3 separate regions of the Homo sapiens genome follow, and regions 2 and 3 are each linked to region 1. The links come from fine-mapping of genetic effects on gene expression. A gene starts in region 1. Each other region holds a variant in brackets. All regions are shown on one strand. Distances are between the middles of the regions. Region 1 holds the start of CFAP61 (cilia and flagella associated protein 61). Region 2 overlaps CFAP61 (cilia and flagella associated protein 61). Region 3 holds the start of INSM1 (INSM transcriptional repressor 1).

Evidence for each region. PIP is the estimated chance that this variant, and not a neighbour inherited with it, causes the effect.
Region 2: its variant is fine-mapped to the expression of CFAP61 in nasal epithelium (TOPMed, PIP 0.99).
Region 3: its variant is fine-mapped to the expression of CFAP61 in prefrontal cortex (CommonMind, PIP 0.95).

What each region holds. Positions count from the first base shown.
Region 1 is chr20:20,048,690-20,056,715 of GRCh38, reverse strand. CFAP61 (cilia and flagella associated protein 61) reads right to left here and starts at 4,184. Exons shown (of 27, transcript NM_015585.4): 1 at 4,125-4,184; 2 at 1-98. The coding sequence starts at 62. CRNKL1 (crooked neck pre-mRNA splicing factor 1) reads left to right here and starts at 4,250. Exons shown (of 14, transcript NM_001278628.2): 1 at 4,250-4,424; 2 at 6,094-6,246; 3 at 7,285-7,376. The coding sequence starts at 4,374. RefSeq lists a silencer at 3,776-3,825 and enhancers at 3,916-4,215, 4,226-4,395.
Region 2 is chr20:20,160,768-20,169,026 of GRCh38, reverse strand. CFAP61 (cilia and flagella associated protein 61) reads right to left here. Exons shown (of 27, transcript NM_015585.4): 11 at 4,799-4,977; 12 at 2,591-2,630. Among named protein-coding and RNA genes, the nearest start is that of CFAP61-AS1, 100 kb to the left of the region's middle. RefSeq lists a silencer at 3,463-3,628. The variant C/T (reference allele first, on the strand shown) is at 4,899.
Region 3 is chr20:20,364,429-20,372,687 of GRCh38, reverse strand. INSM1 (INSM transcriptional repressor 1) reads right to left here and starts at 4,584. Exons shown (of 1, transcript NM_002196.3): 1 at 1,739-4,584. The coding sequence starts at 4,420. The coding sequence ends at 2,888. RefSeq lists an enhancer at 4,721-5,491. The variant G/A (reference allele first, on the strand shown) is at 4,370.

The sequences.
Region 1 (8,026 bases):
GATTCTGTTCTTCGGCAATGAACAACTTCTACCTTTCCTCTTGGAGAAGTGAGTACTGACATTTTTTATCCTGTCCCCAAAAGAGAGAAAAAAGTCCACTATTAATCTGATATGATAAGCCAGTTTGGTTATAATACACACAAAACTGAACACTAATTCAATTTCCATGTGGTCAGAGTGAACATGGTGTGAGAATACTGGTGTGACACGTTTTCCCCTGGGTGTAGTCTGTGACAACTGTCACTGCAAACCAGCTGACGTTCCTCCATAGGAGAATGAAGTTTCTGAGAACTGGCCTGTTTAGAAGTTTCTGCAACTATATTCTTTGTTTCCAACAAAGCTGCTTTAAAAAATTCTAACAATAGAATTGGAAAAACATTGAAAGGAATTATTTACGGATTCAGGGTCCTCTTATATTTAATCGGCCACGATGGCATGTGGTGAAGAGTTACTGGGGAAATACTGACAGCTGCTGCCTATGTTCTTAATAGAGTTCTCCAAACTGGAGCCCTGAAGGTCAGCAGTCTTGAGACATATTTTGAGACCAAAAAAGTTCTGTGGTTAAGTGTAGGAAATGCTCGCAATAGGCTTCCTGAAGGGCCACCAGGCCCATTAACATCTTTGAGAGGTTCCATAATAAAGCAACTTGTTTTCTTTGTATAACCCAGCCTTTCCGACACTCTTTGGGAAGAGAATCTCTAATGACGGCAACAGTGGAGAACCTAACGTTCCAGAAGGACACTTTGGGAAATGCTGTTGACAAAAACAGTAGGTCACAAAATGATTTCAATTTCTCTCTCATTGTCTCAATTTCTGTAAGTCTCTCTTCTCTCTTTCCCTCCCTTCTTTCCTTCATAGGGAAAGCCATTTTATTATATACTAGCCAGTGAGCTCAAAACAGGGAAAACAATGAAGGAGAAATTAATAATGTCTAGACTCCTATCGAAGCTAACCATAAATATTGTCATTCCTTGTTCTGGTTTTAAATTGAAAGCAAAATTGGAATGAGACATCTTGTTTGTGAAACATATCATAAACTAATGCTACAAGTATATAAAAATTCTGAATAAAATAAGGAAGTATAATTAATTAGATAACTGACTTTGGTAAAAAGAAAACAAGAAAAGAAGAAAGAAAGCGAGCGAGGGAAATTCTCCAACCAGGTGGCAATGATGTGAGCCGATCTGACACAGGTTTTGGGGATAGAATGGACCTCACTCCAAACAGAGAATTAAAAATTAAACCATGCATCTACCTGGGACTTTGGATGGGCCCCTCGGTAAGTGAGGGGGCTAGAAAAATTAAACTCACCAGCCCAAGAAAGTGACAAGCTTTCTCTACACAAAGCTCTAGGTAGAAAATAAAGCAAAAATACTGCTGAGAAGTCCAAATTCTAGACTAAAGTGGGTATGGCATTCTAGTCCACACAATCTGTGTATTATGGGAGTCACCAAGAACTTTAGATGATAGACTCTGAAACAGACTACAAACTAAGTATGTTTATAATAAAGAAATATAGAAAGAGAAACAAAAGTCATGAGAAGAGAACAGGTCATTATTTAAAAAAGAACAGAAACTTAAAAAATGAAATACGTGGTTATTAAAATTTAAACTAAGAGGATGGGTTAAAAACAGAAGAATAAAGAAAATAAACTGGAAGATACTTATGAACAAATTATCTAGAAAGAAGCACATAGAAACAGAAAATACAGAATTCAGTAAAGACACATGTAAGACAGAATGAAAAACATCTGTCTTATGGGAATTCCAAAAGGAATAAATGAAACATTTGAAAATAATGGCTAATTACTTTTAGCATGGATGAAAGACATGAACCTTCAGTTCAGAGCAAAAAATACAAATAAACTCCAAATATATAGTAAAACTACAAAACCCTAAAGACAAACAGAAAACTTTAAAGGAACCTGACAAAAGACAGACTGTCTATAAAAAATAATTAGACTGACAGAATATTTCTCATGAGCAACATTAGAAGCCAGTAGCACGGGGGTTAGCAAACTTCTGTAAAAGGCCAGAGAATAAATACATTAAGCTTTATGAGCCACATGTTGTCTACACAACTAGTCAACTCTGCCATTGTAGCACAGTAACAACCAGAGACAATATCGGCACAAATGAGCATGAATGTATTCCCACAAAATTTTACTTACATACACTGAAAGTTGACTTATGTATAATTTTCATGTGCCATGTAATTTTTAAAAAATGTTTAAAATGTAAACTACATATAAAGTTTAATGTAAAATGTGTGTGTGTATATGTGTATGTATGTGTGTGTGTATATATATATATATATATCCCTAGCTCATTCACAGTCCATACAAAATAGTCAATGGGCTGAATTTAGTCTACGGCCCATAGTTTTCTAACTACTAGAATAGTGTTTTAAAAATATAAAAGGAAAAAATAACCATTAACCTAGACTGATAAACCTAAACAATCACTTTAAAATGAAGATAAAATAAAGACAATTTCATACAAAGACTGAAAGAATTCAAAGAATCTTGTAGAAAGAACTAGGAGATGGTATATTCTGAGAAGAATAAAATCAGAAAGAAGTGGAATACAAGATTAAATGCTGGGAAATAAGAAGGTAAACATGAAGGTATATCTACAAAAGCATTGATGGCAAAAAGTAAGAAGGATAATACATTTTTCCTAAAAAAAAAAAAAAAAAAAAACAAACAAAAAAAACACACACAGAGATGAACTGAATTGCCAGACAACAGAAATGTAAGAGAGAAGGATGGTGATCAGAAGCAAAGTATTCTAGCATGTTTGTACTTTTGAGCAAAGGCAACAGATGATTAAACCAATGATTCATTTGGTAAATCAATTGTTTACAGTAACACATTTAAGGAAAATCACTTCAAAGAAACATCTTTTTAATATTTATTTATTTTGTTAGGTGGCTTTATGAAAGTGATATAAAATCTTCTCTATTTAAATTTTGAAAAGTGAGATAAAATATCTAAATAATATGGTTAATAAAGAGTTATGGCAAATACATTGATGTTGGTTATAACTGACTGCAGTTCTAGAAATCTGCATAAATCTTTTGTTGAAAGTAATATCTGCATTGGTAGACGTGATATTACTACATACATAAATATATATTTTCCCCAAACACCAAAAGAGCTTTGCAACTGTGGAAATTATCCTAACAAATGAGCTGCCAAGTCATGTCATTATACATTTGTCCAACCTCATAGAATGTACACCAAGAGTGAACCCTAATATAAACTATGAACTTTGGGTGATAATGATGTGTCAATGTAGGTTCAAGATTGTAACAAATGTACTGCTCTGGTGGAGGATATTTTTAAGAGTTGGAGGCTGTTAGAGGAGGGAAGAGGTACAATAATTGATAGCAGGAAGCTGTGGAGGGAGGAAATCTCTGTGTCTTCCACTTAATTTTGTTGTGAACCTAAAACTTCTCTAAAAATGTCTATTAAAAAAAATTCTCTTAACCTTTGCTTTTCAGTTTTTGAGGGCAGGTTAAGTATTATAACAGCTAACATCTACTGAGCATTTGTCTTTAATCCTAGTGAAACAGATGTTATTAGCCTTGTTTTATAGTTGAGGACATTGAGGCTAAGAAAATTTAACTAGAGTAATTAAGGCACACACAGAATTTAAACATGTTTCTTATCACAAGACTGAGTTGTTTTCCAGTTACTCTATTTATATTTTTTCCTAATATCTGGCTTCAAAGTACCTTCTGTTATTTTTAATTCCAAGCCTTAGAGTTAATTATTTGGGCACCTTAGAATTATTTGGGCACAACTGTCCCGAAACCAGAAACGAGGGGGCGTGGACCCAGAGACTACTAGAATGCAATGCTCGAGGCATTGCAGCCTAAAAGGGCGGCAGCTCGCCCCGTCGCATGCTGGGAATGGTAGTTTCCTCGCTCTCCCTTCTTCCCCCGCCCTCGAGCATCCAGATTGGAGCTCCGTTCTTACTCCCTTGCAGGGCGCCACGGCTCGACAGAGCCACTCGTCCTCGCCTGGTCATCCCAGTTCCGGAGGCTGACCTGGGGATGCGCCCTGGACGCCCTGCACCGCAGTCCTTGCGTCGCTGCTAGTCAGCACGGCGTTACCCACCTCATCCGCAGCTCCAGGACGCCGCACTCCACGCGCTGCCGCAAGGAGGACGCGCAGCCTGGTCACCATGGAAACGGTGCCGCCTCCGTCACGGCTCAAGCGAGAGGTCAAAGGTCAGTCCTGCAAGTTCCGCTTCCGGTTCCGAGATCCTGTTTGTTTTCTGAAAGCTTTGTGGTTTCGGTGAGCTCTCAGAGCCGATTTCTAGCGTCCGTGCCGGGGACAGGTGTCCAGAGGTCGACTGCTGCAGACATGGCGGCCTCCACCGCGGCCGGGAAGCAGCGGATTCCCAAAGTGGCCAAGGTAGGCGATCGCGAGGGGCCTTGTAGGAGGTGGCCTAGGAAAGGGGCATCCCTCAGCCCTGAGGGTGCCCGGGTTGGGAGAGAGTGTTCCCGCCGGGGAGAAGGCTCACCCTGAGAGATGGAGAGGAAGGGCAGCTGGTGGTGGGGCGCGGGCTCTTGTCATCGCGGAGCACGACCCGCGTTGGCGTGGCCTTCGTTCTGGGGTGGTTTTGCTGGGGAGTGGAGTGGGGTGGTTCGGTGAAGATTTACTGAGCCAGGCACTGCACTGGGCGCTGGGAAGCTACGCTCGTACGCTGGCCACAAGCAGTACTCAAAACACGAGTTTCTGTATAAAGACGACCTTGCTAGATGTTACCGAGAGGCAAAGTAGAATATGCCATGGGCGTGAATAAGGGGGTCGTATGAAGGGGTCCTGAAAGTAAATTTTGCTGAGGAAATGACCTTTAAGCTGAGACTTGAAGGCTGAATAGGAGTTAGCCCAGCTGACAGCGGAGGGCGAGAGTAGACGGTAGGAGTAGTATAGTATCATAAGTTAATTAAACAGTAGACTTACTATCTGGTATTTCCTTTGATAGCTAATACTTACCAAGTGCTTAATATGTGGCAGACTTTGAAGCCTTTACAGATACCCTCCCTCCAGTCTTTCTTGAGCCCGGATGACTCTCTTGAACTGGACCTTTACATAACTATTTGTCTGACTCGCAGGAGTAATGCATATAGAGCAAGTAACACTGTGTCTGGCACTTAGTGCTTATTAAATATGAGCTATCACCATTATCATCATTACTCCACATGTGGCATTAAGTAACATTTTTTATAATTCAGCTACATAAACTTTTATTGGGCATCACTGGTCCAATGGAAATATAATGCACACCACATATGAAATTTTAAATTTTCTCATATCTACATTAAAAAGTAAAAACAAAGCAAAAAAGTGAAATTAATTTTGATAATATATATTTTATTTGAGCTAATGTATCCAAAATATTATCATTTCAACATGTAATCGGTATAAAAAATGTAATGAGGTAGTTTATTCTTTTTTATACTTCATCTTCAAAACCAATGTGTATTTTACACTTACAGTCCACCTCAATTTGTACTCACCACATGTGACTCATAGCTACTGTGTTGGACAGCACAGCTCTAAGCTACGTTAGACTGTAAGCTTCTAAGACCTCAAGAAGCTTACAGTCTAATGATGAGAACTTACTGAAATTGCCTTTGACTTGAAGTGCCATGTAAAACCAAACCCAGTTATACACCGGGGCATTAAATAAGTTGAAGAATTCTGTAAATGCAGGTTGTAATGCTGTTAATAAGATGTGCTACACATTTTGATAAAACAAAACCTCTGGTCAGAATTTTACCTAGACGGCCTCAAAGTTTATTATTATACTCATCTAAAAGGGAAAACTTGCTATTATTTTTGCCACCTTTTTCTCTTGAGACTTTTACCTATGGCTTTGCAGTAGATACTATGAATAAGAGAGAAAACGGTATTTTTTTTTTCTTTTCAGTCTCATGGAGGAATGGGAACATGTCATACAAAAAGGGCATCTTGTGATAATACTAACAAAGTTCATATCCTAAAAAATGTATGTTTGTTTCTTAAGCCTTGTGTGAAGAGCAACTACTAAAAATAGAAATGTCTTCTTTCTTAAAAGGTGAAAAACAAAGCCCCGGCTGAGGTACAGATAACTGCTGAACAACTCTTAAGAGAGGCTAAAGAAAGAGAACTTGAGCTTCTTCCACCTCCACCTCAACAGAAGATCACAGATGAAGAAGAATTAAATGATTATAAACTAAGGAAAAGGAAGGTCAGTCAGTGTGGTATCTTTCAGTCCACTAATTGTTAAGACTGTATCGGTCAGTTTGAAAAGCTCCTCATTGGTTGGATTCTGTAGGGCAAGATGAGGTTAAGTGTTTCCAGACGCATGAATAATGTACTTCTGGTTACCAGATAACAGCATTTTTCTGAACTATATAAAATATGCCATGAGTTGTCTGGTTAAAGTGTAAAGAAATTGAATCTGCATAATTTTTGATGCTGAATCAAAGTGAGCGGAAGTTTAGCAGATGGAACAACTGACAACAAGAAGGAGGGTATGCTTAGTAAGGCTGCACTGTGTACTTCTGTCTATACCACCTTCTGTGTTAAGAATTGAGATCTGGCTGGGCACAGTGGCTCGCGCCTGTAATCCCAACACTTTGGGAGGCCGAGGCGGGCAGATCACCTGAGGTCAGGAGTTTGAGACCAGCCTAGCCAACATGGTGAAACCCCATCTCTACTAAAATACAAAAATTAGCCAGGCGTGGTGGCAGGTGCCTGTAATCCCAGCTATTCGGGAGGCTGAGACATGAGAATCACAGCAACTCGGGAGGCAGAGGCTGCAGTGAGCCGAGATCGTGCCACTGCACTCCAGCCTGGGCGACAGAGCAAGACTTTGTCTCAAAAAAAAAAAAAGAAAGAAAGAAAGAAAGGAAAAGGAATTGAGGTCTGCAAAAGGACCATGAGAAGACTTTGGGATCTGATTTGACCTCTTCACTCTAGAATGTGGGACTGTTTTAAAGCACTAATGCTGTTATATATGAAATTCTGAGAATTACCAGAGGACTTAAAGGTAATAGTCAAAAACATTTTTTATTAGGGACAAGCATAGACCATTTTAAAGTATCAGTTAGTTGACTGTAACCTTCTGTAGTGGGTTTCTTATTCCTCAAGGATTCCAGGATGTAATTTCTCTTAAATATGAACAAAATGAATAACCATTTTAGTACAAGACTTAAAATAGACCAAGGGTGCTGTCATTTTTAGTCATTTGTCTTTTGACTTGACCCTTTTTGCCTTCTTCCAGACTTTTGAAGATAATATAAGAAAAAACAGGACTGTGATTAGTAACTGGATAAAATACGCACAATGGGAAGAAAGCCTAAAGGAGATTCAAAGGTAAAATTACTGAGAGTGTAGTTTTGTATATAATGATTCATAGATTAACAGATACCAAAAAGAAAAGAAGAAAAAGTTAAAGCACAGGTAAAAGATTGTGCCTCGGGTAGAAATTTTCAACTTTGGTTCCATGGAACCCTAGGGTTCCCTTGAGGGCCTCAGGAGTACTGGGGTAGAATAGTCCTGGGGAGGGTGGCAGAAGAGGCTTTAGAGATAGATCTTGTCAGTTGTAGCTAAAGAAGCACAATTTCATTTGCTTTGTATATATTGAGATTTTTACAAATTTCAGCTAAACAATGGCCAAAAAAAATAAAACCAATGGCCAAAAAAAATAAAAATTGCAATCTGGCCCTTCCTGTGGTCTAGCTTTCTGCATTCTCCCCGCATACCTCCTTCCCCCACTGTGCCTGTGTATGTGCCACTCCCTGAATATATCATGTCTCCTTATCGTGAGGCTTGACTGTTCTCCTTGCCTGGAATGAGCACCCCCTCCTCACCAAACTTAGTTTCCTGGTAAATCGGAACGTTCCTCAAGTTCTCATTTCTACAATTACCTACTACTTAGCCTTTTCCACCAAACATTTTCATTTCTTCCTCTCTGTTTCCCGTGCAGATCTTGACTATAACATAAATCACATTGCATTATAATT
Region 2 (8,259 bases), 110 kb before region 1:
CAATTCATACAGGTAAGTTCACTTGTGTCACCAAGTCAATGAGGTAGCATGGTGTCCTAGCAAAGGCCCCTTGCTTACTAAGTGACCTTACACCAGTGGTCCCTTCCTCTTGCGAGATGGGAGGATGATACTTCAGGCATTTTTTGGCTCTAAAATTCTGTGATTATCCATAAACCAATGTGTACGTATTTTATCATGACGTGATCCCAGTTGGGTGAACAGATCCATGAGCATGATTAAACCCAGGCAGTGGGTTTAGTTAGCAGACATAAGAGGTCTTGCATGTCCTGAGGGCTGCCATTCATTCTATTCTAGGCCTGCCCTGTCAGTACAGTAGACAATGAAATGTGGCTAGTATTGGCGGAGGAACTAAATTTTAAATTTTATTTCATTTAAATTCATTTAAATTAAAAAAATGGATACTTAATTCCATTACTGGAAAAGTTTTATGTGTGCTTGGATTATGTGAATCTACGTATCCAACTGTAAATTTTATAACATACAAATACAGATGAACTATTTCTGATGAAAATTTAGTACTTGTATTGTGATGTACTATAAATGTGAAATATATATTAGATTTCAAAGACTCAGTACGAGAAAAAGATTGTAAATAGCTCATTAATAAGTTTTCATATTGATTATATGTTGAAATGATTAAATTTGCCCAGGCACAGTTCTCACTTCTGTAATCCCAGTACTTTGGGAGGCCGAGATGGGAGGATCACTTGAGCCCAGGAGTTCGAGCCCAGCCTGGGCAAGATGACAAGACCCCATTTCTACAATTTTTTTTTTAATTAGCTGGGCATGGTGGCATGTCCCAGCTATTTGGGAGGCTGAGGCAGGAAGATCCCTTGGGCCAAGGAGTTTGAGGCAGCAGTGAGCTATGATTGTGACATTGCATGCAACAAAGTGAGACCCTATCTCTTTAAAAAAAGGATTGGGCATATTAAGTTAAATAAAAGATATTATCATATAAACTTCATCTGTTCCTTTTTCTTTTTTTTCCTTGTGGCTCTTGGAACATTCAGAATTACCAATGTGGCTCACACTCCATGTCTGGACAGTGCTGCTCTAGGCTATCTGAGCTTCACGCAGCTGCCTGATCCTCTGCCAGGTCCCTGCAGAAGCAGCCTGCTCTTCCCGAAGCTAATTTGTCCCTTTGGGATCTCGCCTCCTCTTGAACCCTGTGAAGGCATTACTTGTGCTAATCCAAAACCCTGGGGACATTTGTGCAACTCAAAGGAGTGAACCATTGTCTGACCTTACCTTCCTTCTTTTTAGCAAATTAGTAGGACTCCTTTTGGGGAACCTGAGAGTCAAGTTGCTGAAATACTCAAGTTGAAAATAAGGACTGGGTGCCAAGTCTGGGTGGGCTTCCTCTGGGAGGGAGAGACTAACTATAATGAGTTGCTTCATCTTGGATTTGAAGGATTAAGGATGAAGCAACCAAGGTTATTTTTTTTCCTGTCGTCCATGTTCCGAAGTCAAATAGAATTGAAATGTAAACAGCTCTTTTACCTTTTTAAAGCCAGCATTACTTTTATAATGTTAAATATTTACGTTTACATGGACGTTAAAGTAGAAAATAATTAAAATTAGTGAAATTTATTTGAGGAGTTTTTGAGGGAAACCGACTTTGTAAATCCTATGTTCAGGGTAATCTACATTGTTTGGAAAGTGCCTTAATAAGTAATTTTTAAAAATTATGATGGAGAACATATTGCCTTATTATAAAGCTTCATTATAATAACAAATGAGGAAATAAAACCTAACATCACATAGTTGTAAGACAAAATAATTAAACTATACTTGTTTTTGCCTCATTAGAAACAGTATCCAGGAAAAGTAAAGCAATAGATACTTTTCTTGAAATCAGTCAACTGGAGAAGTACAGTTGTTGACTTTACTTAATTAACAGGCCTGTCTTTATAAAAATGCATTTTGTCCCTCAAAACTTCCTTCCTCATTTTCTTTCCTTCAATAAAGAAGTGTAAGAGTTTGGTTAGATCTTCATCCCTAGAAAATAATGAGACAAGAATGTAGGCAGAAGCCCGGGACACCCTGGCATGGAGAATCTTATTTGTACTTGGATATTAGCCTGCAGGCCCATTCATCAATGTGGGTTGAGCCCCCTCTACCAGCCAGGCATGAAGTCAGGCCTGAGGAACTAGTAGGGAAAGAAATGCCAACCTCAAAATCAACAAGTCCCTACTTTGCTACCCTCAGAAAAGCAATATGATGGTTTCAGAATACTTGGAGCCAACATAATCTATAAAATAACAGTGTCATTCACTTTAATTTCCAACATTTTCATGTATTACTATGAATGATTTGATTCTGATAAAACACTGGTAAAGCTATGTGTAACAGAAATTTTGCATTTAAAGAGAACTGCTAAAATAGCATGACTTAAAAATTCTTGAAAATGACAATATTTTGTATTTTTATGAGCTCATGACATGCCATTTGACCTTATTCTCCGAACACAAACCTCAACATTCACAGCATAATAAATTTATGGCATTTTACTTTTCTATAAGTTCTCTAAGCTTACAAAATCAGTTCTCAAAATTCAGCATGTACTTACAGAAAAAAGACTGAAAACAAAATTCATAAAATCCAGCGACCTGTAAACAAGACAGTAAGCACTGTCAGTGCCCTGCAAGCAAATGCAACATCAGTGGACGTTTACAGAGATTTACAGCTCCCTCCCCTCGGGCAGCGATTAGCCAACCACTAGTCAGAATGTGTGTCTAGGTGAACACTAATGGGGTGCATAAGTCGCAAGCTTCGTATGTCAGTAATAAAGTATTCTGCAGAACTGAAGGCACTTTCACATCAATTAACAATCTCTGTGCATTTGAAAAGCCAACACAAAATTGGTCATTCTGTGCCTCCGATCCTTCCCTTCTGTTTTGGAAGAGTTAAGAGGAGAGGTGGGAAATATTATAGGTTGCTTCTGATCTGTTTCCCTTTTATCTGTTGAAGATTTTCTGACTAGCTGTAGATGTACATTCATAGGCAAACCACACTGGGTCATCAAATTCCTGTTTCAAAATTCAAAAAGTATACTCTAAGCACAATCATATTTAAATGTACAGATAAAAGAAATATAAAGCAACAAATATAGAAAGGCTTTACAAGGTTTTATATGTCTACAACATAATTAGAATAAAAAGAATTTCTTTTCAATGTCCCAGATCTCCATAGAAGCTAAAAACTCGAGATGAAAAAAGTTAAAGTACAACAGGGGATGCTGGGAGACTGGGAACATGTTTAAACAGATCCTCTGAAGAGGAACTGTCCAGCTATTCTTGCTCATCTAAAAGACACCCTAGAGCCTTCCACTCCATCAAAATGGGCCAATTATTTCCTCTTCGAGATGGTTCTGTGAACAGATGAGGGGTGGGTGCTAAGGAGATGTGGAATCCAGGCACTGAGGGCAGCGTCCAGTGTCCAGACCACAGGAGAACAGCAAGCACTGAACATGTGGGTGTTCTGGAGGGGCAGGGTGGGTGGCTGTGAGGTCTGGTGGGCGCCGGGGCTTTAGACAAAGCCCAGCACCATGCATGCCTCCTCTTTGCTGTAGCCCTGGATTGCTGTTGGGTGTCAACTTATCCCCTGCTCAGATATTCCATGTAGCTGAGACTCCAGCTGCAGATTTGGCATGGAGCATGAGCTAAGGGATGGAGCCCATCTTCTCCATCTCCTTGTGGCATGGGCTTGTCACAGCCGTTGGCTCAGGAATGAACACACAGTCCTGTCAGGCCTCATGAGACTTTGGCTGGAAAAAGCTGGGCCCATCCCGGCAAGTCCTTCTCACTGGATTCTGATGCAGACCTGAGACCTGAGAATGTCAGTGGTCTTAGGCCCAGGATGGGGCACTCCTCTGAGAAGGGGTCCAACAGCAGGGAAGTAGGGTGATATGGTTTGGCTGTGTCCCCACCCAAATCTCATCTTGAATTGTAGCTCCCATAATTCCCACGTGTTGTGGGAGGGACCCTGTGGGAGATAACTGAATCATGGGGGTGGTTCCCCCATACTGTTCTTGTGGTATTGAATAAGTCTCATGAAATCTCATGGTTTTATAAGGGGAAACCCCTTTCACTTGGCTCTCATTGTCTCTTTGCCTGCCGCCATGTAAGACATGGCTTTCATCTTCCCCTATGATCGTGAGGCCTCCCCAGCCACGTGGAACTGTGAGTTCATTAAACCTCTTTTTCTTTATAAATCACCCAGTCTTGAGTATGTCTTTATCACCAGCATGAAAACAGACTAACACACAGGGTGAAGAGGTAGAGAGAGAAACTTGGTCCTTGATTTGGTAATCTAAATAAATCCTAGATCAAGCCATATTTAAAACAGTCTCACCACCAGAGTTATCCTTAGTTATGTGAGGCAATTATTCAATTTTTTTTTCAAAGCCAGTTTGGTTGGATTTCCTGTTACTTGCAACCAAAGACTCTAGACAACCAGTAACCCAAATTCAAATTATCCAAGAGATGCAAACTTTACAGAATGGGAGCAGCATGTGGTTATGTAAGTGATAATTTTCCAGATTCCCAATTGTTACATAGGTAGGCCAGATTTCTAGCCCACTTCTGTAGGCCTTGTTAAAATTTGATGGACTAGAATCTCTGGATGGGGCTTAGGAATTTGTGTTTTAAAAAATTCCCCAGGAGATTAGGATGTGGGCCAGGTTTGGAAATTACTGGCTCTGTAAAGTTAAAATGTTGGGCCACCAATGCCAGAAAAGATTCTCACTGTGACAGCCAGCCAGAAGGTCAGTACTTGCCTTGCTTCATATTTCTCATCAATACAAAACAGCTGAATACAAAAAGCAGCTGAGGCTCCCCTGTAGATGGGGCGGAAGTGGACGGGCTCTTCAGGCAGTA[C/T]GAGCGATGCCAAGCTCCTACTGCTGACATGGTGATACTGTGCATATCCAGTGGAGATGTCACTGAGTTTTTCTATGTCCTAGAGCAAGGAGACAGGAGGAGCCAATGAGAATCCTGTCAATGCCCTGTAATTTAGTGGGCTGGTGGCTGCATTATCTCTACATGACACCGTTCTGAGGACAGGTGTGACTGTCACCCGAAACAACTCATCCTGGGCCAGGCCTGGTTTTAAGGAGAGGTTCTTAATGAGATACTCAAAATTCATAAAATGTTTTTAAAAACTAGTTCTCCAATGAGAACACATGGACACAGGGAGGGGAACAACACACACTGGGGCCTGTCAGGGGGGTCGGGGGGAAAGGGAGGGAGAGCATTAAGACAAACACCTAATGCAGGCAGGGCTTAAAACCTAGATGACGGGTTGATAGGTGCCGCAAACCACCATGGCACATGTATACCTAGGTAACAAACCTGCACGTTCTGCACACATATCCCAGAACGTAAAATAAAATTTAAAAAATAATAATAATAAAGAAAAAAAAAACTAGTTCTCACATGAAGGTCTCACACAAGACAAATAGTTTCAGTTGGCCTTTGACATAGGGTCCATATTTTAACTGCATCCCAGGGTAGAGATTAGAGCGTGATAGTATTATATACATATTATAATAACTCCAGAAGCAAAATCCCTCTGTCCCCAAAGCTGTTTTCATTGTGATACAAGAATTTTTGAATCTTGGGACTGCTCAGGTGGTCCTGGGAGTAACTATCGTGGGGAGGTGGAGCCCAGGAAGGTCCAGTGGACCACAGCCACCTGGAAAGTCAGGGCTGAGGCTGTTCTGTCTTGGTTTAGGTGCACCTAAAAAGGTGTCATAACTCAGAAGATGATTCCCTTTGAGATCCCTCATGGAGTTCTTTTAAATCAAAGTAATACATGCATATGGAAAAATTTAAAATAATATTAGCACCAAACATTTATTAAGAAAATCAGCAGTTCTCTGTCCTTCCAAGTCTCTACCCCCATTGAACAGAACTTTCAACGTTTTCATTTATTTGGGTATATATTTACCTCTATATTTCTGAACAATATGCTTATGGTGCTGTTTCTAAATTCATTAGTTTTTAGAATTTCCTATTCAATATTGATGCAGTGGCTAGATTAATCCCTCTCATACTACCCTCTTCCCCACATCTTATCCCCCAGGAAAATTACATCACAATTCAGGGTTAAATCCGTAAGTATTTACACTAATATGAATGTGTAAGTTCTGTTGTTGCTGAGCAAAGTAGTGTAATATGACAATGTTTTCATCTGTGTGCTTAGTTTTTATTCACTTGGTTTGCTAAGTTTTTCACTTCCTTTATCAGATTTGCCAAGTGTTGGTCACTATTATTTTCCAAATGATCAGGCGTTTGAGATAATATATGAGCTTCCTTTTTTCTCCCCTCTAATCTGGACTTGCAGCTCTGCCGTCCTGCCTGTATTGCAGCTCCTATTTTGTAAGTTCCAGGTCTTTTCTTTGTCTTTTTTGTTCATCATTTAGGCCCTCATATCGTTAGAGCACATTTTTAGCTTCCTAAAAGCAACATGCTTGAGAGGCAAAACTCCACAGACACTGGCTAACTGGGGCACTTCATGGGGTGATCAGGCAGAGATCTGGCATTATTACTGGGTGGCCACCTTCAGTGACATCATCTGAAGGCATTTTCCTTGGGCCTGTCAGTTTTTTGGGACTTAAGTTCTCCAATATTCTGTATTGAGGACTGTGGTCCCCAAAGATGTTACAGGTACTAGTCCCTGCAACCTGTAAATATGTTATCTTTCAGGGCACAGGGATTTCGCAGATGTCATCACATGAAGGGTTCTATGATGAGGAGATGCTCCTAGATGATCCGGGTGGGCCCAGAGGAATCATAGGGATCTGCTAAGAGGGAGGCAGCAGGTCTGAGTCAGAGGGAGGAAGATGCTGCGCTGCCAGCTCTGAAGATGGAGGAAGGGGACACAGGGCATGGAATGCAAGTGGCTTCTAGAAGCTGGCAAAGGCAAGGGAACAGATTCTCCCCTAGAGTCTCCAGAAGGAACACGCCCCTGTCTACACCTGAAGCTCAGCACACTCAAACCCATTTTGGAATGCTAACCTCCAGAACTGCACAATAATAAATTTGTGTTGTTATAAGCCACCAAGTTTGGGGTAATGTGTAACAGCAGCAATAGAAACTTAATACAAGGCCTGGCTCCTGGCATTGAGAGGGCGTGGCTGGAGGAGGGGCTGTGGATTCCTCTGTTCGAAGTGGAGAATTCCACTTACTTGTCTGTTCTCTATTCCTCACCGTTACAACGCCCATGCAGCACAGGCTAAATCTGAATTAGCAGCAGCCTCTGTTCAATTTCTCTAGAGAATAGTCATTTTATCCTCTCACTTGGGGTGTGGCTGACAACCTAACTGGAGTCTGCAGGGATCCAGTGTTCCAGTCACTCCACATCAGACTGCCCAGCTTTTCAGCCCAATTCCTCACCCCACCTTCTGCAAACCTCCAGTCTTCAGCCTTGTGCAGAATTCACACACTTTTCACCAGTCTCTCCTCCCATAAAGATGCCTGAGTTTCACCTTCCTCAGCTGTGCTAAGCCAATGTAAACTCTTCCATTGATTTTTTTATTCTCAATATTTTTAAAGTGCTTATCTTCCAATATCTCCTCTCCATCTCACCTTTGTGGATTTGTGCCCTTTTTATCCCTTTACTGTCATTTCAGTGTTTTTCTCCGGTAGGGAGAGGAGATAAAAATAGGAGATCAATCCACCTTGTTGACTCAGGTGTCTTCTGGGGTTCCAACCATGTTTGATGCAGTGGTGGGGGCAGGCATCCTGTCCCTCCAACCACATCCTTGCTTGGGTTCATAACGGAACGGCTACCCTCTTAGGAATATTAGAGAGAAAACTGCTGTCCTCTTCTACACCCTGACTTTCCTCCCTAGGGCACAGGGAGTGACCAACTGGTCAGTGAGTCTCCTAGTGTGGGTTGCCCCAGAAACACACCCTGAATTAAGTGTCTGAGAGTCAGTAGTTTACTTGGGGAGCAAAGCCAGGAAATTCTGTAAGAGGAGTGGCATGCGAGGTGAGGAAGGGGAGGCTGCCAGCATGGGGTGTTTCAAGATGTGGGTGACTATGGTGAATCAACCCCACCTGGATCTCCGAAAGCCTAGAGAACACAGTGCAGAGTGGTCCCACCTAAGAGGTGAAGGAGCTGGCAAATTGATTCTCCAATCCCTTCAGTCACTGGCTGATGGCTGCTTCCCCAAACAGCCTGCCCTGCTGCAAACATGGCATGGAAGAAAGACCAGGCACTTGCAGTCCTTGTCTT
Region 3 (8,259 bases), 320 kb before region 1:
TCATATTGTGTTACCGTGATAAAAATTGACCAAGTTTTTCTATTTCTACGCTGTTTCATTGCCTTCAACTCCATTTACTATACAGTTTCATTTAATATCTCACATAGATGTTTCGGGTTCCATTTATTCCATTGAAATAAATTTATACAGGGGATGAAGGAACATGTTTGTGAACAACCAAATTATATTTACCCTCATGAAGGTGGATCTTAGATGAATTCATGTTTTTGTGATTACAGACGAGAACCACAGTGAGCCCAACATAGTTACAAGCTACCATTCCTGCAGACGAGTCTGGACTCCCCATGTGCGGCCAATCTTCCAGTTTTTAAGGAAACTTTATTGCCACAGAACGTGCATACACTGACCCTCAGTTTGGGGTATCTTTTAATGTTTGGTGTAACTCAGAGAGAATATTTTCAATGCTCCCATTCTCCAGTATTACTGTTGCAGGAGGGGAGAAGCAGCAGCCATCAACCCACACATTTGAGTTTTTCTTTGTTTCGTTTAAAGTTTTTAGGATGTTATAAATGCTGCTCTGTCCCTGTGCTTTCCTATTGTACCAGCCCTGAGCTTTTTGTTCTTTTATTTTCCAAACTGGTAAAATATGTAGTCATCAGTGATAAAAAGCTCCATGCAATTTGTCCTGGAGGCAACTTACCTGTAGAGGTTTCTCCTTCATTGTTATTCGAAGGCTGTTTCCAGACCCTCACAAAGGGAGGAATATTCCACATTCCTGCTAGCTGAGCCTGCTAGCTAAACCCCGTCCCACAGAAAACTTGAGGCTCACAATCTGAAAATGATCTCTTTCCTCAGTTTGTCCTTCCAAGTTCCTCATGGACTGCCCTTCCCAGCCTCATTCCAGCTCTTCTTTGGAGATGCAAATCCCTTTACTGTGCAGATTTCTAAAATCTCTTTGGCAGGCAAATGTTAGCTTTAGCGGACCTCAGGAAAAAAAAAAAGGCAGCAAAAACACACAAAAGGAAGGGAACACACACATGCACAATTGTGAGATTTAGCACAGCTCCTTCATGAGATGTTTCCAAGACAGAGGAAAACAACCCAAAATATTCACTGGTGAGAGTCAGAATTGTTCTTGAAAGAGCTGAGTGACACATAATGGAAAACATTGTAATTACCTGTTATTAAATTTAATACCCCAAACAGATGGTGTTCCATTTTCCCCCCAAACAGACTGCTCACCTGATTGGAAAATTATTTCTAAGCCCTTGCCCCCAGTTGCTTAACTTCCCATTGCATCCAAATGTGAATCGGGTTGCTGCCCGTGCTTTGCAAATCTGACGGTAAAGTCATTTCTCCTTTCTTGTCGTGAACAAAAACTACCCACTTTATTTATCTGAGGAATTACTATCACCCTGAGCCCCAAATTTTTGGGAATGAAGGACTTGCTAAATGAAAGTGCAGTGCAAAGAACAGCTTCTTAGGGACACTGATCTAGATTTCTCTGAAAAGATGCCCAGGGCCTTCATTCTAACCCGCCTCCTGGCACATTACTAAGGACCCCAACAAGGCTTGTTTCAGCCAGCCGCTACCAAGGCTATACCCTCAGGCTGCCAGAAGGGCAGAGTTCCGCAGCTGAGGTTCAGCTCTGAAAACCCACCATCCTGGTGGTTCCCTTTTTCCTAATAAAAAATAAAGTTACATTTTAAGAAACCATCAGAAGCTCTATTTTAAATTCGTCCTGAAAGCATGTGATGCAGAAATCAGGCCACCACACTTTGACTTTGAAAATATTTTATTTGAATAGTAAATAGTTATACAGTTGAAACAGTTCTATTGAAGCTTTCTATAAATAGCTAACAATTAAGAAAATAATGTATGTAGAAAAGAGATTGCATTTAAAAGTAAGAGCTGTCGGTTGTACAAGGGCCCTGGGGACCCTCGAAGCAGAATAAATGATAGGTTGTCTGTAATTCACTCAGATAGGTATAAAAGTTAAAACTTTAAGCAGATCCCTTTAGAAAAAGGCTCTCTTCTAAAACGCACAGTGGAATGTCAAGAGTGGCAGGGTGGGGAGGGGGCAGCGCGCCAAAAAAATCTGCAATCAAATAATATCATAATCTTCATAATTAATATAAATAAATAAAGAATAAATAACAATTACTCATAAATCAACATATACATTTAGAGGGAACTGATAGTCCTACCTCAACAAAGATGATCAAACCAAAAAGTCTTACGTGAAACACTGAGGCAGTTACTACAGCATCTTCGGAACACTCCCTTCCCTCCCCCCACAAAACAATCCCAGACAACAGTTCAAGGCATTTGTGGCTATACTAAAGAAAACTCTTTTTTAAGCAATTTGATTTGTTCACATACAAAAAGGTAAAGCCAGACTCCAGCAGTTCACAAGCCATAATAAAGCTAATCGTGTGGGAAGTTCAATTTACAGCCTGTGAAATATAAAGGCATTTATTCCTCAAGATTCACCCAAAACAACCCGTACGCTACATACATAGAGAGCAGAGATTGGTAGGCGAGGCGAGACCAGACCGCATTTCTAGACCATGAACACAGCGAATACTAGCAAGAAAAAAAGCTTCTCCCCGCCAAGGGGAGGCTTCCAACCACGAGACAAACGCGTACAGCTTTTCTCCCTTGTACAGAAAGAGACTGACTCCTGTTGCGCCATGGGGGAGGCGGAGGGACACAACGTAAAAGTGGGGGTTCCAAAAGGAGTCAAAAGGAGAGTATGGGGTTACCGTCACGCCACACCGAGAGAAGCGGAGACGACACTTTCACCCGGTGGGGGCGGGGGCGAGGCTCCCCCAGCGCGGACTCGGGTTCGGGGAGTGCAGGGCGCACTCTCTTTGTGGGTCTCCAAGCGAAGGCACAGTTCGGGGGCCGGGGTGGAGGGCGCGCTCTAGCAGGCCGGGCGCACGGGCACCTGCAGGAGGATCACCTGTCTGTTTTCGGATGGGTGGCACTTGTTGATGTGCCGCGTAAGGCCGGGCGAGCTGTAGAAGGTGGCCGGGCAGTACTTGCAGGGGAACACCTGGGCGGCGTGCAGCAGGCGCAGGTGGCGCTCCTGAGCGCCCTTGCTGGCGAACGACTCTCCGCACACTGGGCACAGGTGGCACTCGGCGGACGCACTCAGGCCCAGCACGCCGGCCCCCTCGCCGTCGCCGGCCGCCTCCTGGGGCGCCTTCTCGTCGGGCCCGGGGTACAAGGCCAGTAGGTCCTCGGCCGGGGGCGCTAGCGGCGCGCCCTTGGCCTGCAGCGCCTGGTGGTGCGCCAGCAGGTGCTTGCGTAGGTAGGCCTGGCGGCGGAACTTCTTGGCGCAGTGATGGCACTCGTAGAGCCCGTCCTCGGAGCCCGACTCGGACACGCCGCCGGGGCTCGGCGTGTCCCGGTCGCTGCCGCCGCCGGGTGCCTCCCGCGCCTCAGCCCTGGCTGCTGCTTCTGGCTCCGGCGCGCGGGCGGCGGCGGGCGCGGGCCGCGGTTTGTGCCAGCGGCGGTGCGAGGCCAGGTTGGCCGGGCAGCTGAAGACCTTGGCGCACTCGGGACAGCGGTACTCCACACGCACGATGCGCGAGCATTTGTGCTGCGCCAGCGCGAACGGGTCGGCGTACTCCTCCTTGCACAGCTGGCAGATGAACTCGCCCAGCGGCCGCGCCGCGCCCCCCGCGCGGCCCCGCGGCGCCTCCACCGGGCCCTCCTTGATCTTGAGCCCCAGCACGGGCGACGTGGTCACCTCGTCCTCGAAGTGCAGCTTGCGGATGGCCTTGGGCTTCTTGGCGCCCGGGGCCTTGACTGCCTTGGCGGGCGGCTCCGCGGCGGTAGGGGGCGGGGGCCGCTTTCCCGGGGGCCGCAGGGCGGCGGCAGGGGGCAGTGGGGGGCCGGGGCCCGGGCCGCGGGCCGCCTCGGCGCCAGCCGAGAACGCCGTGCCCATCTTGAGCTCGGCGGGCGCGAAGAGCAGCGGGTCGCCGCCGCAGGTGCCGCCTCCGCCAGCTCCGCTCGCGCCGCCGCCGCCGCCCCCTCCGAGCAGCGCGGCGGGCGTGGGGAAGGACTCGGCCGAGACCGGCGAGCCCAGGTTGAAGCTGCGTTCGAAGTACTTGTGCTTCTCGTGCTCGCGGCTCACGGGCCGCGTGGGACTGTAGAGCGGCGCGGGGTGCGCAGCCTCGGGGTTGCCGAAGTGCGCGGCCCGCGGGCCCTGCGGGGGTGGCTGCGGCCCAGGCGCGCAGGCAAGCGCGGCGGCGAGCGCTGCATGGGCGCGCTCCGCGGGCGGCGGCGGCGGCAGCGGCCCGGGGACCGGGCTCGGCGCCGGGGGCTCGGCGCGGGCGCCCCCGCAGCTGGGCGAGAGCAGCAGTGCGCGGTCGCCGTCCTCGCCGCCGCGGACCCGGTA[G/A]GAAACGGGCGTGGACTTCTTGCTGCGCTTCACCAGGAAGCCGCGGGGCATGTTGGCGCGGCCCGAGGGCACGGCACTGGCTCGGTCCCCCCTCCGCGCTCGGCCCCGGCGGCCCTCAGTGCCCCCGGCCCATTGCCCGGGCGCGGCGGCTGCGGGACTCGCGTGGCGCCGGCGACGGCTCGGCCCAGCTCTGCGCCCTGCACGCGCGTCCCTGTCCCCGGGCCCGGCAGCCGCTCCCTTTTAACGGGGGGAGGGGGCCATTGTTCTCGCCTCCCGCTTCCCCTGGAGCCAATCAGCGCGTCCGCAGCTCCTCAGCCTGGCAGGGTGGGAGGGCGATGGGGCGGCCAAAAGGGGGCCGGGACTCGGGGGTCGCCCGGTAGGTGCGGCAGATGTACCTGAGGGCGCGGGGCCCCCGCGCGCGCCCCTGGTCGCCCCGCCCGGCGCCGCCGCCCCGCCCGGTCCAGGCACACGCCCGGCCCCGCCTCCCTTCACGGTCTGCTGCTTCTCTATGGGGAGGCGCACGTGCCTGGGCTTTGTGTCTCTCCTCCGGGGGGCGCGGAGCCGCCAAATGGGCCCGTCCATCAGCGCGACAATGCACGCCCCCCTCCCGCGCGGGGATTACCCGCGGGTCGCTAGCAAAATAGCAACAAAGGAGAAGAATGGCCCCAAATATGTCAGGAGGGTTCAATCCGCGAGCCGGAGCCGAGGGGGAAGTTGTGCGCGCTGATTGGGTGGGGGCGGGGGCGCGCCGGGGCGGTGCGGGGGAGATCGTTGCGGAGGCGCAGTGGCTCCGCGTGGTGTTTGGGAAATAAACAAGAATCCGAGAGAGCAGCAGGGTCCGGACGGCCTCCGCCCGGACCTTGGACGGATGGGCCGCTGGACCCAAGAGGCCAAGCAAAAGGGTTCCCCGGGGTTCCAAGTGTGGACAGGGGGCCCGGCCTTCTGGCAGTGGCCGAGGGCGATGTTTGTGCTCGCAGCCTCCGCGCGCCCACGGGGCTAGAGAAGGTTTCTTTCGAGTTTGAGAAGGAATTGGCACGGCCTTCTCAGTCTCCCGAAAGCGCGGGATTGGAGCGCGGGCGGGCTGGGCTGGGTTCCCAGAGGAACGTGAATTTCTGAACTTTTGGGTTCTTGGAGGCTTGGGAATGGCATCTTTGGCGGGGCCCGACCCAGGCCGCCCGGAGCTTCCGCGTGGTCCAAGGCTCGGTTAATCCGGGTCGAGTTGGCCGAAGCCCGAAACGCGCGGTCGGCCTCGTGCGCCCCAGTGAAGTTGGCTTTCTCCTCCCCGCGCGGCCTCATGCATTTTCATTCCGAGCGGGCATTTTGTTTGCCGGTTGACATCAGATGCTAAATCAAGGGCTCCAATCAAGGCGCTGCGAAATAAAGGGGCTGCCTGTCTGGGCGCAGCCCCCACGGAGCCGTGCCCCCTTCACCTTTGTGAAGGAAATTAACCTCCTGCTATTGAGCTCCGGTCGCGGCCAATCTGGACGCAAAAGAGACGCGTGCTGGACGGGGGGAGGGGGGGCAATCTGTACTCTGAGGCAGGCTGAGGCCTCCGAGAGGACAAGCCGCCTCCCCTGTGCCACCAGGAAGAGACAACAGCGAAGATTCCCCCCGCCCCCACCCCCACCCCCACCTCCGCTGCCGTTCCGTTTGGACCCAGACTGGGCCGCCTGCCTCCATCCTCTGTCCAGCCCAGCCCCGAGGAAACACAAAAGGCAGAATCTTCGGGGGACAGGGCAGAGAACCCCACGAGTGCGTAGTGGCCCTGATCGTCCAACACTGGGGAACAAATAGCCAAGCCACATAAAATGTCATATGCTGTGAGGAAAATGTCACTTTATTGAAAGAGAAGGAAACATTTTTCTGCAAAGCTTTGTATACCAGACAGATTTTGCTGAGTTTTACTTACGCTTAATTCCACTGAAGGTATTTAATTGTTTTGGATTTTCCCTCTGAAAATACCCTGGCGTAGAAATTAAACATGTAAAAATAGAGTCCACATGAGTCATAAGTTGTGATGGGGACAGTTGTTAGGCTTAATTAATTAAGGGGTTAATCAGGTTGGTTAATCAAGGGAAAGATATTTGATAATTTTATGTTTGTAATATTTTAACTCACACACTGAAAAGGGAAGAATGCATATAGTGAAATATATTTTGAAAAGTCTCACCCTAGTTTTAAAAATGCTGTGGTGAGTGCTAGTCTCCCCAAAAGTTAGAAATCTTAAAATGAGTTTATCTAAAATTTATAAACATATTTCTATCTAAAAGTAACTGATGTTATTTCCTTGCTCTTTTGAGCTCTGATTAATAGTGCTGATGAAATTAGAAGTGGGAAAAGGATTCCGAGACAGCTTTGGCCAATTTTATTTTCTAATCACGAATCCCATCTGGATTGTAGAATAGCATAGGGCGGGGGCTCGGCCTGCCCCATTCGGTCTTGCATATGTAACACTCCTTCCATTCAACAGATAACAGAGAGTTAGTCACCTTGTGAATCCTTTAAAAATAACAACACCCATAATTGTAAATAAGCCGTGGGGATGGGAAACCGGCACCTCTACCAACAAAAAAAACAAAACAACTCCTGCGTGAGTGAATTCAAACAGGGCTCTGAATTTAGCCAAGGGAATCTATTAAACGCTACTGAGATACTGAGATTCAATGAATCCGTTTCTTTTTCTTTATTTGTGGCTTCCAGTCTTGCTAGCGTAAATGAAATCTGCTTTCAGACGGGTACAGTCAAAATAAATGGAAACTTGAAAGGTACTAGTATTGGAAACTAATTTCACCACCCGGGGCTGGAAGGAGTTAGGCTGCGCACGCGCGCACGCACACACCAGCGACCTCCAAGCAGGTGTAGCCCAGCCCGGGCCGTGGATCGCAGCCGCCTTCTGCGTGATTTTCTCAGAACCTGTGCACCCGCATGCATGGGGACATCGGGTCGAGATATTTGTCTTCGCCTGGGAAGAGCAAAGCGCCATCACAGTGCGCCCCCGACGCCGGCCTTGGCGCACGCGATTCGGAGAATGGGCCGCGTGAAGTTAAGTTGGGGGAAACAGCGCGGATTTGCCCCCCTCCAGGGGGGCTTCGCGAAAGTCAGTGAACATAAGGATCCAAGGCAGAGCACCCAAGGGGCCTTCCCCGGCTTCAGGTGACTCCTCCCCTTCCTTCGGGGTCCTGGCCAGCGCTTTGGAAAAATCCCGGGCCTCTTCACTTTCCCTTGCGGACCCCGCGGTGGGTTCTTCCTCCGACGACTGCGGAGCCCGAGGCCCCAGGCCCTCCAATTTCTCCTATCCTGGTGTGCGGGGATGCCGTCGGGGAGCGCGCCGGGGTTCACTCTGACCCTCACCACGGCTGGAAATCAAAGTCAAGGCAACAGGGAGTTTGTAGAAAGCGCGAAGCTTGGAAATAAGAGCAGAAGCGGGGAACTTCTGCGGAGGAGTTGGCTCCTTGGGGTGTCTAGGAGAACAGGAGGCCCTGGCCTCACGGGAGGAGCCGGGCGGGCCCGCATTCTCACCCCGCAGAGGGTATCGCGTTTGGAGACGTCGGCGTTGGGGGTGAGGTGTCAGCGCCCCTCATCACCACTCTGCTGCAGACTTCTCTTCTGGCTTCACAGAAGCCCCCACTCCCGGCCCTCAGTCCCCCGAGCCACAACCGGCAGGAACCGTGCGTTACCGCTGCAGTGCCCGCCGCCCGGAGGGACCAGCGCCTCCCTGCGCCGGGTGCGCCCGACCCGAGCCGGTGAGAGGCTTTGTATTTGCAGGAATGAGGGGTTGTTGTGTCAGTCCCAGGGGCACGCGAGAGACACGCGCAGCCCGCCTGGCCGCCACCCCGCCCGGCCCGGCCCCAGGCACCTTCCGGGCCTCCCGCCCGCGGGCCGTTGCCTTT